2 separate regions of the Homo sapiens genome follow, and region 1 is linked to region 2. A link means that fine-mapping ties the variant in region 2 to the expression of a gene that starts in the linked region. Tissue or cell type: whole blood. Region 2 holds a variant in brackets; the other region holds the start of a gene. All regions are shown on one strand. Distances are between the middles of the regions.

Region 1 (8,172 bases), 25 kb after region 2:
TAAAATGCAGAGAGCAGGATGGGGCATGGTAGCTCATGCTTGTAATCCCAGCACTCTGGGAGGTGGAGGTGGGCAGATAACTTGAGGTCAGGAGCTCGAGACCAGCCTGGCCAACATGGTGAAACCCCATCTCTACTAAAAATACAAAAATTGGGCCGGGCACAGTGGCTCACACCTGTAATCCCAGCACTTTGGGAGGCCGAGGTAGATGGATCACGAGGTCAAGAGTTTGAGAGCAGCCTGGCCAACATGGTGAAATCCCGTCTCTACTAAAAATACAAAAATTAGCCAGGCTTGGTGGCGGGTGCCTGTAATCCCAGCTACTAGGGAGGCTGAGGCAGGTCAGAATCACTTGAACCTGGGAGGCTGAGGTTGCAGTGAGCCGAGATCACACCACTGCACTCCAGCCTGGGTGACAGGTTAAGACCTTCTCTCAAAAAAAAAAAAAAAAAAAAAAATTACCGGGTGTGGCAGTGCATGCCTGTAATCCCAGCTACTTGTGAGGCTAAGGCAGCAGAATCGCTTGAACCTGGGGGGCGGTGGTTGCAGTGAGCTGAGATCGCACCACTGCATTTCCAGCCTGGGTGTCAGAGTGACCTTGCCTCAAAAAAAAAAAAAATAAAATAAAATGGGAAGAGCTAGAATCCGTGTTTCCTGGGTTGAAATGAGGATTTAAAGAATTAATTGATGGGGGACACTTACAGCAGTGCCCAACACATAGTAATGCTAGTAAATGTCACATTTTACTATTTGTTTATTTTTGGGGGGATTTTAGCTGGGATTACAGGCACCTGCCACCACATCCAGCTAATTTTTGTATTTTTACTAGTGATAGGGTTTCCCCATGTTGGCCAGGCTGGTCTCGAACTCCTGACCTCAAGTGATCCACCTGCCTCAGCCTCCCAAAGTGCTGGGATTACAGGCGTGAGCTACCATGCCTGGCCCAACAGATGTTTGTTTGTTTGTCTGAGACAGAGTCTTGCTCTGTCACCTAGGCTGGAGTGCAGTGGTGTGATCTCGCCTCACTGCAACCTCCACCTCCCGGGTTCAAGCAATTCTCCTGCCTCAGCTTCCCAAGTATCTGAGATTACAGGTGATCACCACCACGCCTGGCTAATTTTTGTATTTTTTGTAGAGACAGGGTTTCATCATGTTGGCCAGGCTGGTCTCGAACGCCTGACCTCAGGTGATCCACTTGCCTGGGCCTCCCAAAGTGCTGAGATTTTAGGTGTGAGCCACCGTGCCCGGCTCCAACAGATGTATTTTAGAGTTTGGACTTGAATTCCCCCAAGGCAGCACATCTGGAAGGCACGTGGGCACTGCTATGGGATGACAAACTGGGAGGAGCCTCAGTCCCCCACCCTCCCCGACCCCACGTACGCTTATGAGGGAGAGAGAAAGGCTGGTGGTTCTCAACATATGAAAAATATCAACAGAGAACACCAAGAGAAAAAGTGGACTGACAGAGGTGGTTGGGAGAAACACAGAAACACACACACACACACACACACACACACACACACGGCAGGCACATTACAGAGGAAACTAGCAGATATTAGGATATGAGGGGGGAAAATGCAGATACACTCAGAGGCCAAGTGCACGCACCCAAATAGGTTAGGTGCATGCACAGATGAAAAGGCGGGGGCGGATCACCTGAGGTAGGGAGTTTGAGACCAGCCTGGCCAACATGGGGAAACCCTGTCTCTACTAAAAACACAAAAATTAGCTGGGCATGGTGGCACACTCCTGTTGTCCCAGCTACCCAGGAGGCTGAGGCAGGAGAATTGCTTGAACCCGGAAGGTGGAGGTTTCAGTGAGTCAAGATTGCACCACTGCACCCCAGCCTGGGCAACATGCCAAGACTCCATCTCAAAAAAAAAAAAGGAAGCTGGCCGGGCGCGGTGGCTCACGCCTGTAATCTCAGCATTTTGGGAGGCTGAAGCTAGTGGATCACAAGGTCAGGAGATCAAGACCATCCTGGCCAACATGATGAAACTCCGTCTCTACTAAAAATACAAAAATTGGCCGGGCGTGGTGGCTCACACCTGTAATCCCAGCACTTTGGGAGGCCGAGGCAGGTGGATCACGAGGTCAAGAGTTCAAGACCAGCCTGGCCAAGATGTTGAAGCCCCGTCTCTACTAGAAATACAAAATTTAGCCACGCATGGTGGTGGGTGCCTGTAATCCCAGCTACTCGGGAGGCTGAGACAGAATTGCTTGAACCCGGGAGGCGGAGGCTGCAGTGAGCCGAGATCACGTCACTGCACTCCAGCCTGGGCGACAGAGCAACACTCCGTCTCAAAAAAAAAAAAAAAAAAAAAAATTAGCCGGGTGTGGTGGCATGTGCCTGTATTACAGCTACTCAGGAGGCTGAGGCTGGAGAATCGTTGAGCCCAGGAGGCGGAGGTTGCAGTGAGCCGAGACTGCGCCACTGCACTCCAGCCTGGCAACAGAGTGAGACTGCATCTCAAAAAAAAAAAAAAAAAAAAAAAAAAGGAAGTTATGTGCGATGGCTCACGCCTGTAATCCCAGCACTTTGGAAGGCTGAGGCAGGCAGATCAGTTGATGTGAGGGGTTTGAGACCAGACTGACCAACATGACAAAACCCTATTAAAAATACAAAAATTAGGCCAGGCGCAGTGGCTCATGCCTGTAATTCCAGCACTTTGGGAGGCTGAGGCAGGTGGATCACCTGAGGTTGGGAGTTCAAGATCAGCCTGACCAACATGGAGAAACCCCGTCTCTACTAAAAATACAAAATTAGCCAGGCATGGTGGCGTATGCCTATAATCCCAGCTACTCGGGAGGCTGAGGCAGGAGAATTGTTTGAACCCAGGAGGCGGAGATTGCGGTGAGCCGAGATTGCACCATTGCACTCCAGCCTGGGCAACAAGAGTGAAACTCCATCTCAAAAAAAAAAAAAAAAAAATACAGAAGTTACCCTGGCATGGTGACGAGCACCTGTAATCCCAGCTACTTGGGAGGCTGAGGCAGGAGAATCGCTTGAACCCAGGAGGCAGAGGTTGCAGTGAGCTGAGATCAAGCCACTGCACTCCAGCCTGGGCAACAGAACAAGACTCTGTCTCAAAGAAAAAAAAAAGAGTAAAAGGCAGGCATGCGTCCTGGAAACAGGTGCACACAGGACAAATGGCATGGAAGCAGAAAGGAGATAGGTACACAGGCCCCCAGCCCTCTCCTGCAACAGGAAACCAGTATAGACCCAGAGGACACAGTAGAGAGGAACCCACGGACATATACACATAGAGAGGTTCAGGTGCACACACCGAGAAAGTGCAGGCAGGTAGACAGCAAGAAGATAACTGCCCACAGAGAGGACGGGCACTGTCGCAAAAGGGACAGGTGAACACGCACAGAGGGATCTGGCTTGGTTACCCCCAGGGGCTCAGGTGGGCAGGGTGGGTCAGGAAGGCTTACCTCTCTGTTATTCCTCTCCAAAAATGCTACGGCTGTTGGGCTGACCATATGGTCCTTCATTTCCTGGAGGTAAGGACAGCATTAGGGAGGAAAGACACTCAGGCTGGGCGCGGTGGCTCACGCCTGTAATCCTAGCACTTTGAGAGACCAAGCCGGGTGGATCACCTGAGGTCAGGAGTTCGAGACCAGCCTGATCAACATGGTGAAACCCCGTCTCTACTAAAAACACAAAACTTAGCCGGGTATCGTGGCAGGCACCTGTAGTCCCAGCTACTCAGGAGACTGAGACACAAGAATCGCTTGAGCCTGGGAGGCGGAGGTTGCAGTGAGCCGAGATTGCAACACTGTACTCCAGCCTGGGCGACAGAGCGAGGCTCTGTCTCAAAAAAAAAAAAAAAAAAGAAAGAAAGAAAGAAAAAAAAACACACTCAAACCTTCCCCCACTCCCCGCCTGCAGGACCTTTCCTGACCTGGACTGCCTCTCGCATCCGCTCCACGAACACCTTTCTCTCCTGCAGGTCCCCGGCTGGGAGCTTGAACTTGCCTGGGTTGGCTTCCACTATACGTGGGCTGAGAGTCAAGGGTCAAGGCCGGAGCCAGATATCATCCCCGTCCCTAGGGGTCCAGCCCTACCCGAAGGTGGGCTGCCACCGCAATGGGCTCTCCCATGCCACCCTCTGCCACAAAGCCCCAGGATATCGATGGTCTCTTCCAGGTCCTCGAGGTCCCACTCGATGCTGCGCAGGCCATTCCGCAGCTCATTGGTCGTCCAGTCCAGCTCCTCGCGTCCGACCGCCGCGCTTTCCTGCAGGAGCTCGCACCAGCGCTGGTACAGCCCGCGGGCCGTGTTCACCGCCTTCTGCACCTCGCTGCGGGCAGGGGCACGGCGGGCGCGGCTGGGGGCAGGCGGTCCTCCCGCCTGCCTCTGCCCCCGACTGCAAACCCAAACGCATGGGGGACTCCGGAGACCCCTATATACCCCTGCGTGCGCCTCCCACTCTGCACCCCGACGGCCTTGCCCAGCCCGCCGGGCACGCTGGGGCCGGCACCCGGGCACTGGCTGGCTTGGGTACAGAGCACCCTCCGCCCTCCCCCGTCGTTGTCACTCACCCTCGGACTACAAAAAAGGGGTCTTCGAGAGACATGTCAGTCCCTTCCCCCCCAGGCCGAACCCCCCTCCCGGCCTGGGTTCGCGGGCTGGTTCCCTCCCAACCGAGGAGAACGCGCCGCCACCCCCGCCCCCGTCACGCCACCATCGAGAGCCGGACCGCCAGGGGAGAAAGAGAAGCCTCGGAGGCCCGACGTGCGGACACTTCCGCCCTCTCCTCAGCCATCTTGGTTGTGGGCAGAGGCAGCTTCCGGTGCACATGCCCCCGCCCCTTAGCCCTCTCGTGCCGCACCGTAGGGGGCGGTGTCGGAGTTCTGTCTGGGCCTATTCGGGTCCGAGTTCGGAATTTCGGTTCAAGGCCCAGTTCCTCGGATTGTTCCTGCGCAACTTCAGTTTCCCTTCCAGGCACGGGCAATGTAAATAATGATAGCCTCCCTCATCTCTGGCGGCTGGGTATTATGGCTGGGGAAGGGGCTCATTCGATTCGTTGAAGCTTTTCATGGACTCCCTGAGCTGGCACCTGGGAGATCGTCCCATCCCAGGGTCCCGAGTGTCAGGTTTGGCTAGGGTCTGGGGGAGAGGTGGTCCTCCCTTCTCCCTGCGGGGGCGCGGTGAGGAGCGGGCCTGCTCCTCCGGGGAGTTCTGCCGCATTCTCCCAATCTCTTTCCTGAGAAGTGGCGGAGTTGGGGGCACTTCGAGGTCGCCTTGGGGCGAGGTGGTCGTGAGGGGGTCCCAGATATGCCAGCAGCGGGGGGAGGTCACCTTTGAGAAAGTGCGTGGAGGTGGGTTTCTTCAGAAGCGCGGAGTCTTTCTGGGTGCGAGCCTGGGGGTAGCGGGTGGTGGCTTTGAGGATGGTCTCCAGGGGGGCCCTCTGTGTGTGGGGTCTCCGTCTGGGTAGGGGCCAGGAATATCAGCGGAGGGACTCAGGGTCGTCCCTATGTGTGACAGTGGCGCTGTGTGTTGGGGAGCTTCGGGAAAGCACTTTTTTTGAGTGATAGGGGGCCTGGTCTCCCCTGGAGGGTGGGCGGGTTATCTGAGGGAGTCCTCGGAGGGTCGCCCCCTTGCGCGTCAGAGTTGCTGCGTGGGGTCTCAGAGATAGCGCCTGGGCTGGGGAAATCATTGTGGGGTCTCCGTGGTAAGGTTAGCGGGGTGGGGACGGCCTGCGTCTTCGGCAGGTCGTCGCAGTCTGGCACCATCGTTGAATGGGGACGAGTTTGGGAAGGGTATTTTAGGGGGGAATAACTTTTGAGTTCCCAGCGTGCGGGGGAAGGGCGGGACGGGAGGGTGTCCCAAGGCCTGAGAAGATCAGTGTGGGGCAGGGGTCAGGAATAACCTGGGAGGGGGCCTTGTATGGGGGAAATAATTGGGAAGAGGAGAGATGGGATGAAGGGGGCCTCAGCGGGTCGTCTCCTGTGTATGCAGGGTCGTTCTGCAGCGTCTCTGGGAGATGGCGTCCCTGGGAGCCCTCAGGTCGCCCCTACCCGCTGCGGGGTGCTTTCCTGGCGTCACGCCTTCCTGGCCCCTGGAGGGAAGGAAGTGAAACTCTCCTCTTCCCCCACCCGGCTGGAATGCGAGTCAGGAAGCCTGGGGCTCCAGCCTGCTCCGGCTGCCCGGGTCGGGGATGGGGAGGGGCGTGGCCGGAGCGCAAAGCCCCGCCCCTCCGCGCCCCCCCCCCGGAAGCCCCGCCGCCGGCCGCTAAGGCGATCACGGGCCCTGTCCTAATATGGGCAACCGGAAGCGGCCCGCGCGACTGCCCTACGTCACTCCGTCCAAATTTAGTTGTGGAAGTCAGCGGGCGCTGGTGGCGGGAAGGCGCCGCGAGCCAGTGCGGGCGGAAAGGGGGCGGGGGGCGCACCACCCCTTAAAGGGCCCGCACCAGGAATGAATGGAGCCATTCGAACAATTCTGCATCCTATTTTTGGAGGAAGTGGAATTAGTATTTCTTGGAGAGACGGCGCGTAGCGGAGGGTAGGGCGGAGATTTTCTATCTGCTCTGTCTCTGCATTGCTGGGTTTCCAGCTCCCAACCTAACCCCGCCTCCCCGAACGCGGAGACGGAACTCGGCCCCCTTGTTTGGGGGGCGGCAGCCACGTGTTCACGGGGACTGTCGTGCGCGCCGGGTTCGCAGCCGTGCGAGCTCTGAACCCACCCGTGGAGCTCCTGTCGCGGGAAACTGCGGGGGAATGGCTTGGTACGAATCACGGGAACCCGTAGCCCGGGGCGGGTCACCGCCTACAAGCAAGGGCTGGCGTACGCTAGAGACCGAAGAGCTGGAGGCCCCAGTGGCCCCCTTTCACAGCAGTAGCAAATATTGTTTGTTTAGTAAATATTGGCCTAGTGACTCTGCCTTGGTTTCCCCACTTGAAGGAAGCAGATAGAACAGTATCCTCCGAGGAGTGGAGGCTGGGGATCGGTGAATTATTGATAAAAGGAGAGCTCTTAACCTAGCCTGGCACGTTGTAAGCGCTGTTAGCATGATTATTGGTGCAGAAAACACTCATTAGACACACCTGGTAAATGCTAAGAACAGTGGCCACAGGGGATGTTCAGGCTGGAACCAGGGTCTTCCCCTGTGTGAAGGGAAACTTGCTGCCCACGACCCACTGGGGCCTCCAGACGGGAGCATGTGGGTAGGCCGTGAGCTCCACCCCCGGCCCCCCTCCCTTGGGCCAAGGCGCTGATGCATCGGCGGGGCTCAGAGAAAGGAGCCCACCCAGAAAGCTCAGCGTGGAGTCGGGGGACGCTCCTCCTCGCCAGGGTTCCCGTCCCCTTTCCCTGCTGGGTAAATCGCATTCTGTCTCTTTAAGGAGTGTTTGGCCGCGACGAGTTGGAAAGCCCGGATGCGTCCTTCGGTTGGGCGGGGTGTCTCAGTGACGTCACTGGGGGTATAAAAGGGCCTGGGTGGCGGGCGCCTGGGCAGAGCGTCCTAGCAGTGTCACTGCGTGGGTTGGTTTGTGTAGAGAGGCGTGAGCGAGCCCGTTGTCCGGAGTGCACCTGCTGCCTGTTCTGTCCCTCCCGGGAGCCCCCGCCGCTGTCGCCGTCGAGTCGCCATGGAAGTGCAGAAAGAGGCACAGCGCATCATGACCCTGTCGGTGTGGAAGATGTATCACTCCCGCATGCAGCGCGGTGGCCTGCGGCTGCACCGGAGTCTGCAGCTGTCGCTGGTCATGCGCAGCGCCCGGGAGCTCTACCTCTCGGCCAAGGTGGAGGCCCTCGAGCCCGAGGTGTCGTTGCCGGCCGCCCTCCCCTCTGACCCTCGCCTGCACCCGCCCCGAGAAGCCGAGTCCACGGCCGAGACAGCGACCCCCGACGGTGAGCACCCGTTTCCGGAGCCAATGGACACGCAGGAGGCGCCGACAGCCGAGGAGACCTCCGCCTGCTGTGCCCCGCGCCCCGCCAAAGTCAGCCGCAAACGACGCAGCAGCAGCCTGAGCGACGGCGGGGACGCTGGACTGGTCCCGAGCAAGAAAGCCCGTCTGGAAGAAAAGGAAGAAGAGGAGGGAGCGTCATCCGAAGTCGCCGATCGCCTGCAGCCCCCTCCGGCGCAAGCGGAGGGCGCCTTTCCCAACCTGGCCCGCGTCCTGCAGAGGCGCTTCTCCGGCCTCCTGAACTGCAGCCCCGCGGCC
Region 2 (8,172 bases):
CTGGGGAAGCATCCCGGAGTAACAGATCCAGAGCAGCTAGCTCTCAAGCGACCAAACTTTCACAAGCAAAGGATCAAGATAATTTCACATACTTCTGTGTTTACAAAGATGGTGTAGCAAAGTGAAGTCATTATGAGCCATGAGGGGATGGGGAGGTTTCGATGGGTGGCCGGAAGTGTTCCCGGAGAGCTAAGATCTGAATAATAATGTTAGCTAAGGGGTGGGTGGTGCTGGGGCGCAGGGAGGGGTCAGTGTTCTAGGCTCAGGGGACAGCACATTCACAGCTTTTCTTGAGTATGTACCAGTCTTCTTCTGAGTGCTCTAAACATTTTGTCTTCATGAGGGAAGGAGTGGGGGGATGACCCTACTGTGGAGACAGAGACTCTAGTACCATTCACAAGAGAGTGAAGCCCTGTCTCTGGGTCTCCTGGATCTGCCCATCACCCCCAGATGGAAGTTCAGAACCCCTTGGCCTGCATCTAGGGTATTTAAAAAATCTGGCCTCCTGGCCGGGCAGCAGGGAGCCCCAGCAGGTTCTTGAGCTGGGCTTTGAGGAGATGTGAGTTTTGGTCAGCCTTACAGGGTCTATTGAAGGAGTCTGCCTGGAGGCCCGGGGGTTTGGAGAGAGTTTGGGGTTGGCCCAACATTGTCTGACCCTAGATTTCATCAGTGTCATTGCCAGAGCCTGTGTGGAGAGAGGGATCCCATCAGGCTTGGTGGGGCATATTGCTTTTGGGATGGTGGTGAGCCACCGGGGCTGGAAAACATGAGTCAGTGTTCATGCCACTCTGCGTCCTCAGATCCTCCGTGCCCCTCGTTTCTCCTCCTAGGTTGCTCTCAGCACTTGTACACACTCGAACTCATTTAAGCCCGTGGCTAGCAGGTCCTGCCTGTTATCATCATTTGACACACAAGGCAACTGAGGCACCCTAGTCCTTCCTTCACACAAGCTGCAAAGTGGTCTGGCTACCACCCCTGTGCCGCCTTCCAGCCACTTTCATGTTCCTCGTGTCTGCATTTGCTCCTCAGTCCTCTCAGCCGCTACTGCCTTCCCCTAGAGAACCCTCTGGGCCGCATGAGGTGGGGCCGGGAGGTGGGACTGGGCCTGCTTGCACATTAGGTGGGGTGAGGACCAGCCGAGCCGGCAGAGGTGACGTGTCTTAGGTTGTGATCTGTGTGTGGTTGTGGTCATGTCCCTCCAGCCTTCTCATGTGCTGCCTCCTTGGCGAAGGTCTCAGTTCTTAGAGACCTGTGCGTCTTCTCTGAGGGCTTTGACTGTGTCCAGTTCGTGGTTTCTAAATCGAGCAAAGGGAGAGGGTAGGTAAGGGTGAGCAGACACGGTCTAGTAGAGAGTGAAATTTCACACTTAGCACCACCCCTGTCTCAGCCATGAGACTCTGGGCAAAGGTCTTTACCTCTGAGCCTCAGTGTCCTCCTCTGATAAGGAGTGACAAGTGGGCACAACTATACTGCTGTGATTCGCAACTGGGTACAGTCCTACCTCCGGGGACACTTGGGGAATGTCTGGGGACATTTTTGGTTGCCCCTGCCGGGGGGGGGGGGGTGTGCTGCTGGCATCTAGTGGGTTTATAGGCCAGGGATGCGGTTCAACATCAGACAGTGTGTAGGGCAGCCCCCACCACAAAGAATGATTGACGCAAATGCAGTGGCTGGGTGGGGAATCTCCACTGTCTGGTTATCATGAGGTTTGCGGGAGAGGTTGGCGTCTGGGGTGTGAGTGGACAGTGCTGTGAAGGCTCTGGGGAAAACCCCAGCGATCACTGCCTGTTAATCCCATGAAATGTGCGAGGTCTGGGAGATGGTGAGAGGCATAAGATGTCTTCTACTCCCAGGGAGTTTGCGGCCCAGCACGGGGCCAGGGGATACGACTAACAGCAGCTGGCATTCATGAGCACCGACTACGGGGCGAGCGCCGATCGGCCTGTGTTCTTTGGTTGTTTAATCCTTGAAATAGCCTTGTGAGGTGGCTGCTGCTGTCAGCCCATTTTCTAGATGGGAGACTGATATGGGGGGTGAGCAGTATTGAGGGTAATTCTGAGTGACAAGCTCTATAAGGGATTTGAGCCTAGTACAATAGTAGGATTCAAAATCTTAGGTCCTGCGTGGTTCCCTAGCACAGCCCAGCAGGCCCCTCTCCCAGGATGATCCCCATCCCTCCACCCTCCTTTGTGTTAGCGGCACCAGGGTCACCTCAGGGCCTTTGCACTTACTGTTGTTCCCTCCACCCTTGGTTGCCGCCACTGCTGCCCTGTCTTTTGGGTATGATCTGATTACACGCAGGGAGTGGGATGTAACTCCGAAGGGTGGGCTTATGGTTGGAGTTGGTGGGGAGGGAGCGGGCAGGCTGCGAGCTCCATGAGGACGGAGGCAGAGCTTCTGCCAGGCTCTCCAAGGAGCTGGAGCTGCTGCCTGCAAAGGGAGGCCAGATTGCCGAGGGCTGCGAGGAGGAGCGAGTGGGAGGAGGGAGAGGCAGCACGCGGAGACTGCTCATTCCCGGAGATGGTGGTTGCAGGGAGAAGGGGCTAGAGAATAGCTGCAGTTGGGAGGATTGGGAAAGGAAGAATGAAAAGAATGAAGAAGGCCTTCCTTGGGGATTAGAGAGAGGGCACCCCAGACCCTGAGGTGGAGGTCCTCAGACAGGCAGAAGACCCTGTTTCTGGAGAGGACACATCCAGTAGCTCAGGTAAAGAGCCCCAGCTCTGGGCTCGGCCGGTCCGGGGTTCCCGTCTGGTCTCTGCCTTGCTTCTCTGAACACCAGTTTTCCCACCTGTGAAATGGGTCTAGTCACAGCTGCCTCACATTTTTGCCTGATTCGGGAGCCAGACGGCCTGGGTATAAACCTGTGCCTGCCATTCACCAGCTACATGTTCCCCACCTCTGGCTTCACCTCTCTGGGCCTCATTCCCATCCATGAAATGGCAGGCAGGCTCATTTCTTCCTCAGAAACTGTAAAGAAGAGTAAGTTAAATGAGCCTGTCTGAGCCCTGGCCAGGTATGGGCCCAGTCAGTGAGGCTTGAGTAGGGGACACTGTTACTAATCCTATTCCACCATGGATTTAACAATAGTCATTCAGGGAAA[G/A]AGATAACGAATTAAATCTGTGGGTGTATAAGAAAAAAAATACAGGCCAGGTGCAGTGGCTCACGCCTGTAATCCCAGCTCTTTGGGAGGCTGAGGTGGGCGGATCACTTGAGGCCAGGAGTTTTGAGACCAGCCTGGCCAACATGGAGAAACCCAGTCTCTACTAAAAATACAAAAATTAGCCAGGCATGGTGGTGTGTGCCTGTAATCCTAGCTACTCAGGAGGCGGAGGCACGAGAATTGCTTGAACCCAGGAGGCGGAGGTTGCAGTTAGCCGAAATCACGCCACTGTACTCCAGCCTGGGCGACAGAGGAAGACTGTCTCAACAAAAAAGAAAAAAAAATACTGATGCAAGATGAGGTCTTGCTGTATTGCCCAGGCTGGTCTCAAACTCCTGGCTTCAAGCGTCTTCCTGCCTCAGCCTCCCGAAGTTCTGGGATTACAGGTAGGAGTCACCGCCCCCCACTGAACAGTTTGTTCTTCACTAACTGTTTTCCTGGACTGCCTTCACATTCAGCCCCTACAGAGGGGTCTTTCTGGTTCTGGGTCAGGCAGGCAACCTGAGTAGCTGCCAGGATCCAGCCACATCCTGCTGAGCTGCATGAAGGACTGTGGGGCTCTCTGGGGCCTTTGTTCCTTGTTACACTTGGAGTTGCTGGTCTCCCTTAACTGGCTTGTAGGTCTTAGCCCATCTGGGCTGCTGTAATAAAATACCTTAGACTGGAAGCCAGGCACATTGCTCATGCCTCTAACCTCAGCATTTAGGAGGCTGAGATGGGAGGATTGCTTGAGCCCAGGAGTTCGAGACCAGCCTGGGCAACATAGTGAGACCTCATCTTTACAAAAAAATTTAATTTTAATTTGTTTTTCACCCGTGACACAGCCCTCAGGAGGTCCTGAGAACATATGTCTCTCGTCTTTGCAAAAAATTGTTTTAATTAGCCGGGCGTGGTGGCACACATCCCTAGTCCCAGCTACTCAGGAGGCTGAGGTGAGAGGATAACTTGAGCCCAGGAGTTTGACGCTATAGTGATCCAAGATTGCACCACTACGCTTCAGCCTGGGTGACAGAGCAAGACCCTGTCTCAAAAAAACAAAACAGACTGGGCCATTGATAAACAACAGAGATGAGCTGCTCATAGTTGTAGAGGGTGGGAAGTCCCATATCACGGTGCTAGCAGATTCCGTGTCTAGTGAGGGCCCATCTCTCATAGATAGCACCTTTTAGGTATCTGCACAGGGTGGCAAGGACAAACAAGCTCCCCCTCTTTTATACGGGCACAGTTCGTATTCATGAGGACAGAGCCCTCCTGACTGAATCAACTCCCGAAGGCCCCACTTTTTTTTTTTTTTTTTTTTTTGGTGAGACGGAGATTTACTCTTGTTGCCCAGGCTGGAGTGCAGTGGTGCGATCTTGACTCACCGCATCCTCCGCCTCCCAGGTTCAAGCGATTCTCCTGCCTCAGCCTCCCAAGTAGCTGGGATTACAGGCATGTGTCAGCATGCCAGGCTAATTTTGTATTTTTAGTAGAGACGGGGTTTCACTGTGTTGCCCAGGCTGATCTCGAACTCCTGATCTCAGGTAATCCGCCTGTCTCTGCCTCCCAAAGTGCTGGGATTACAGGCGTGAGCCACTGCACCCAGCCCTTTTTAAATTTTTGATCAACAACTTCTTTTTTATTTTGAGATGGAGTCTTGCTCTGTTGCCCAGCCTAGAGTGCAGTGGCGTGATCTTGGCTCGCTGCAACTTCCACCTCCTAGGTTCAAGCAATTCTGCCTCAGCCTACCTAATAGCTGGGATTACAGGCGTGCACCACTGCGCCCAGCTAATTTTTGTATTTTTAGTAGAGATGGGGTTTCACCATATTGGCCAGGCTAGTCTCCAACTCCTGACCTCAGGTGATCCGCCCACCTCGGCCTCCCAAAGTGCTGAGATTACAGGCGTGAACCACCATACCTGGCTGAAAGGCCTAACTTTTTTTTTTTTTTTAGACGGAGTCTTGCTCTGTCACCAGGCTGGAGTGCATTGGCCCGATCTCGGCTCACCGCAACCTTCGCCTCCTGAGTTCAAGCGATTCTCCTGCCTCAGCCTCCCGAGTAGCTGGGATTACAGGCACGTACCACTGTGCCTGGCTAATTTTTTGTATTTTTAGTAGAGATGGGGTTTCACCATGTTAGCCAGGATGGTCTCTATCTCCTGACCTCGTGACCTCGTGATCCGCCCTCCTCAGCCTCCCAAAGTGCTGGGGTTACAGGCGTGAGTCACCGTGCCCAGCCAGCCCCACTTCTTAATACCACTACATTGGAGATAGGCTTTAGCATGTGAATTTTGGGAAGAGGCAAACATTCAGACCATAGCATCTGTCGACGGCCATGTCACAGCTTCCCTGGAAAGACATCAGGAAAGGACTGTGCCTTTGACAGTCTCTCACAGGCCCATGCTGGCTGGGGAATTCCTCAGCTCTCTTCCCTAAGAGCTGACAGTTACTACTCCCAGGAATCATCCTGCCAGCCCCCTTCCTGCAGATGGCAGGATCCACCGGCAGTGTGAGCAATTCGTCAGGTAACACTGCGGTCTCAATAGGCCCCTGACTGCTGGCTACCCACCTTGGCAGCTGTCAAAGGAGGTCGTCTGTCTGCCCAGCCACAGATAATGCTTCTGAGCCCTATTCCTGTTTGAGCCACGTTAATGTGGAACAAAACAGGGAGTTAGGTTAGGAGGAATGGAAGTAATTCTTTGTTCATTTTTTCCACGAAGGACTGTGAGCACCCACTGTGTACCTGGCCAGGTCCTAGGGGTAGAGGACACAACAGGGATCTACACAGGCAAACTCCCTGCCCCAGGGAAACTGACATGAAGCCCCAAAAAATGCCCAGTTTGGCAGGGGTGGTGGCTCGCACCTGTAGTCCGAGCACTTTGGGAGGCCAAGGCAGGAGGACCACTTGAGCCCAGGAGTTTGAGACCAGCCTGGGCAACATTAGGGAGACCTCGTCTCTATTACTAAAAAATGCACAAATAAATAATTTTTTTTTAGAAAAAGAAAAATGGCCAGCTTGCTAAATAAATCATAGGAACTCCCAAGAAGGATAAGTCAAGCAGGGAGAATCAAGCCAGGGAGTTAGTGTCGGGAAGGGCTTTGTTGGTCAGACGCAGTGGCTCATGCCTATAATCGCAGGGTTTTGTGAGGCTGTGGCAGGAGGAACACTCAGCTGGGAGTTGGAGACCAGCCCAGGCAATATAGTGAGATCACGTCTCTACCAAAAAAAAAAAAAAAAAAAAGCATACATATACATATACTTTTTTTTTTTTTTTTTTTTTTTTTTTTTCGGTTAACTGGATGGGCCGGGTGCCGTGGCTCACGCCTGTAATCCCAGCACTTTGGGAGGTGGGCGGATCACTTGAGGTCAGGAGTTCAAGACCAGCCTGGCCAACATGGTGAAACCCCATCTCTACTAAAAATAGAAAAATTAGCCAGGCATGGTGGTGGTTACCTTTAATCCCAGCTACTCAGGAGGCTGAGACAGGAGAATCGCTTGAACGATTCTTGCAGTGAGCCGAGATCCCACCACTGCACTCCAGCCTGGGCGACAGAGCGAGACTCTGCCTCAAAAAAAAAAAGAAAAAAAAAAATTAGCTGGATGTAGCTCCTGTGGTCCCAGCTATTTGGGAAGCTGAGGTGGGAGGATTGCTTGAGCCCAGGAGTTTGAGGCTGAAGTGAGCTATGATGGTGCCACTGTACTCCAGCCTGGGTGACAGAGCAAGGCCCTGTCTCCAAAAGCAAAAGAGTAGAGAAAGGGCTTTATGTGACCAGGGAGAGTATGAAGAGCTATGGCTGTCCCATTCCCATTCTAGTAGGTCCGAGAGCAAGCAGGGCCAGACTGCCAGGGGCCCCAATAAAGCATTGTAGGGGCCCAGGCAGTGTCACTTGGGGCCAAGGTAGTACAAAGTGGTTTTGAAGGAGTTGAAGATGAATCCAAGGATCTGAATGAGGAGGGCCAGAGCTGGTGAAGCTACGGCATTCACAGGTTTTGGGAAGGACTGGAGCCAGGTCCTGAAATTGTTGAGTGGAGGTGTCTGGGGTGTGTGCGAGTCTGGCATTCACAGGGAAGTCCGGGCCAAAGACTCCAGTGGGGGAGGCATCAGTGAATAGATGGTGCTTCAGGCCTGTCTTAGTCAGCTCAAGCTGCCACACAACAAAATATCACAGACTGGGTGGCTTAAACAACAGACATTTATATTTCAGAGTGCTGGGGGCTGGCAGTCTAGATGAGAGTGCCAGCGTGGTCAGGTTCTGGTGAGGGCTCTCTTCATGGCTTGCAGACAGCTGCCTTCTTAATACCACCGTTATGACCTCAATTAACCTTAATTAGCTCCCAAAGGTTTTATCTCCAGATACAGGCACATTGGGGCTCAGAGTTTCAATCTGTGAATTTGGAGGGACATACTTTGTCCATAGCAGAGCCCTGAGACTGAGCCCAGTCCCCTGGAGGTGAAAACCCTTTCTGGAAGGGCCACACTCCCCATCCACTACTGCCCTTCCTAGATCTCAGCTCCAGTGTCACCCCTTCTGGGCAAGGTCAGGCACCCCAGTGTGTAGCACATTGATCTGTGTGACCAAGGATGAATGGCCCTGTCTCCTGCTGGACTGTGAGCTCCAGAGGCAGGGCTACTTTGTCACCATTGTGGCCTGCCCAGGCAGGGACCTGGCAAATATTTATTGAGTAGTTGTTGGGAAGTCATGGAAACCGTGTGCTGTGCCCTTGGGTCTCACCAGAAGATCTGCTCAGGCCCAGGGCCAGGACTAGGCACTGTCCTGGCCAGGAAGGTCCCAGCTGCCCTGTGGCCTCCTGCCCTTGTCCCCCACACCCTCAGGGGTGCTGATATGCTGAATTTTAAGGAGAGATGATTCTCATATGGTTTTCTGCCCTTGGGGAGTTTATAGTCAAGTGGGACTTAGTTTCCTCAGAGGTAAGCTTAAGGGCACTGTGGCCGGGGTGGGGCAGGAGAGGGACATCTTCTCTAGCCTGGAGAAGTGAGTAGCTGAGGGTGGAGGAAGAGGGTATTCCAGGC

The links. PIP is the estimated chance that this variant, and not a neighbour inherited with it, causes the effect.
Region 1: STX10 starts here. The variant in region 2 is fine-mapped to the expression of STX10 in whole blood (INTERVAL, PIP 0.97).

The regions. Positions count from the first base shown.
Region 1 is chr19:13,145,591-13,153,762 of GRCh38, forward strand. It overlaps STX10 (syntaxin 10), which reads right to left and starts at 4,785. Exons shown (of 8, transcript NM_003765.3): 1 at 4,549-4,785; 2 at 4,138-4,307; 3 at 3,909-4,003; 4 at 3,439-3,501. The coding sequence starts at 4,583. IER2 (immediate early response 2) reads left to right here and starts at 4,821. Exons shown (of 2, transcript NM_004907.3): 1 at 4,821-4,962; 2 at 7,354-8,172. The coding sequence starts at 7,597. RefSeq lists silencers at 4,296-4,345, 4,386-4,545, 6,096-6,455 and enhancers at 4,666-4,865, 4,886-4,955, 7,236-7,565, 7,552-8,172.
Region 2 is chr19:13,120,973-13,129,144 of GRCh38, forward strand. All of the region lies in intron 1 of NACC1 (nucleus accumbens associated 1), which reads left to right. Among named protein-coding and RNA genes, the nearest start is that of NACC1, 6.8 kb to the left of the region's middle. RefSeq lists a silencer at 1,303-1,372 and enhancers at 1,743-1,792, 2,356-3,015. The variant G/A (reference allele first, on the strand shown) is at 3,101.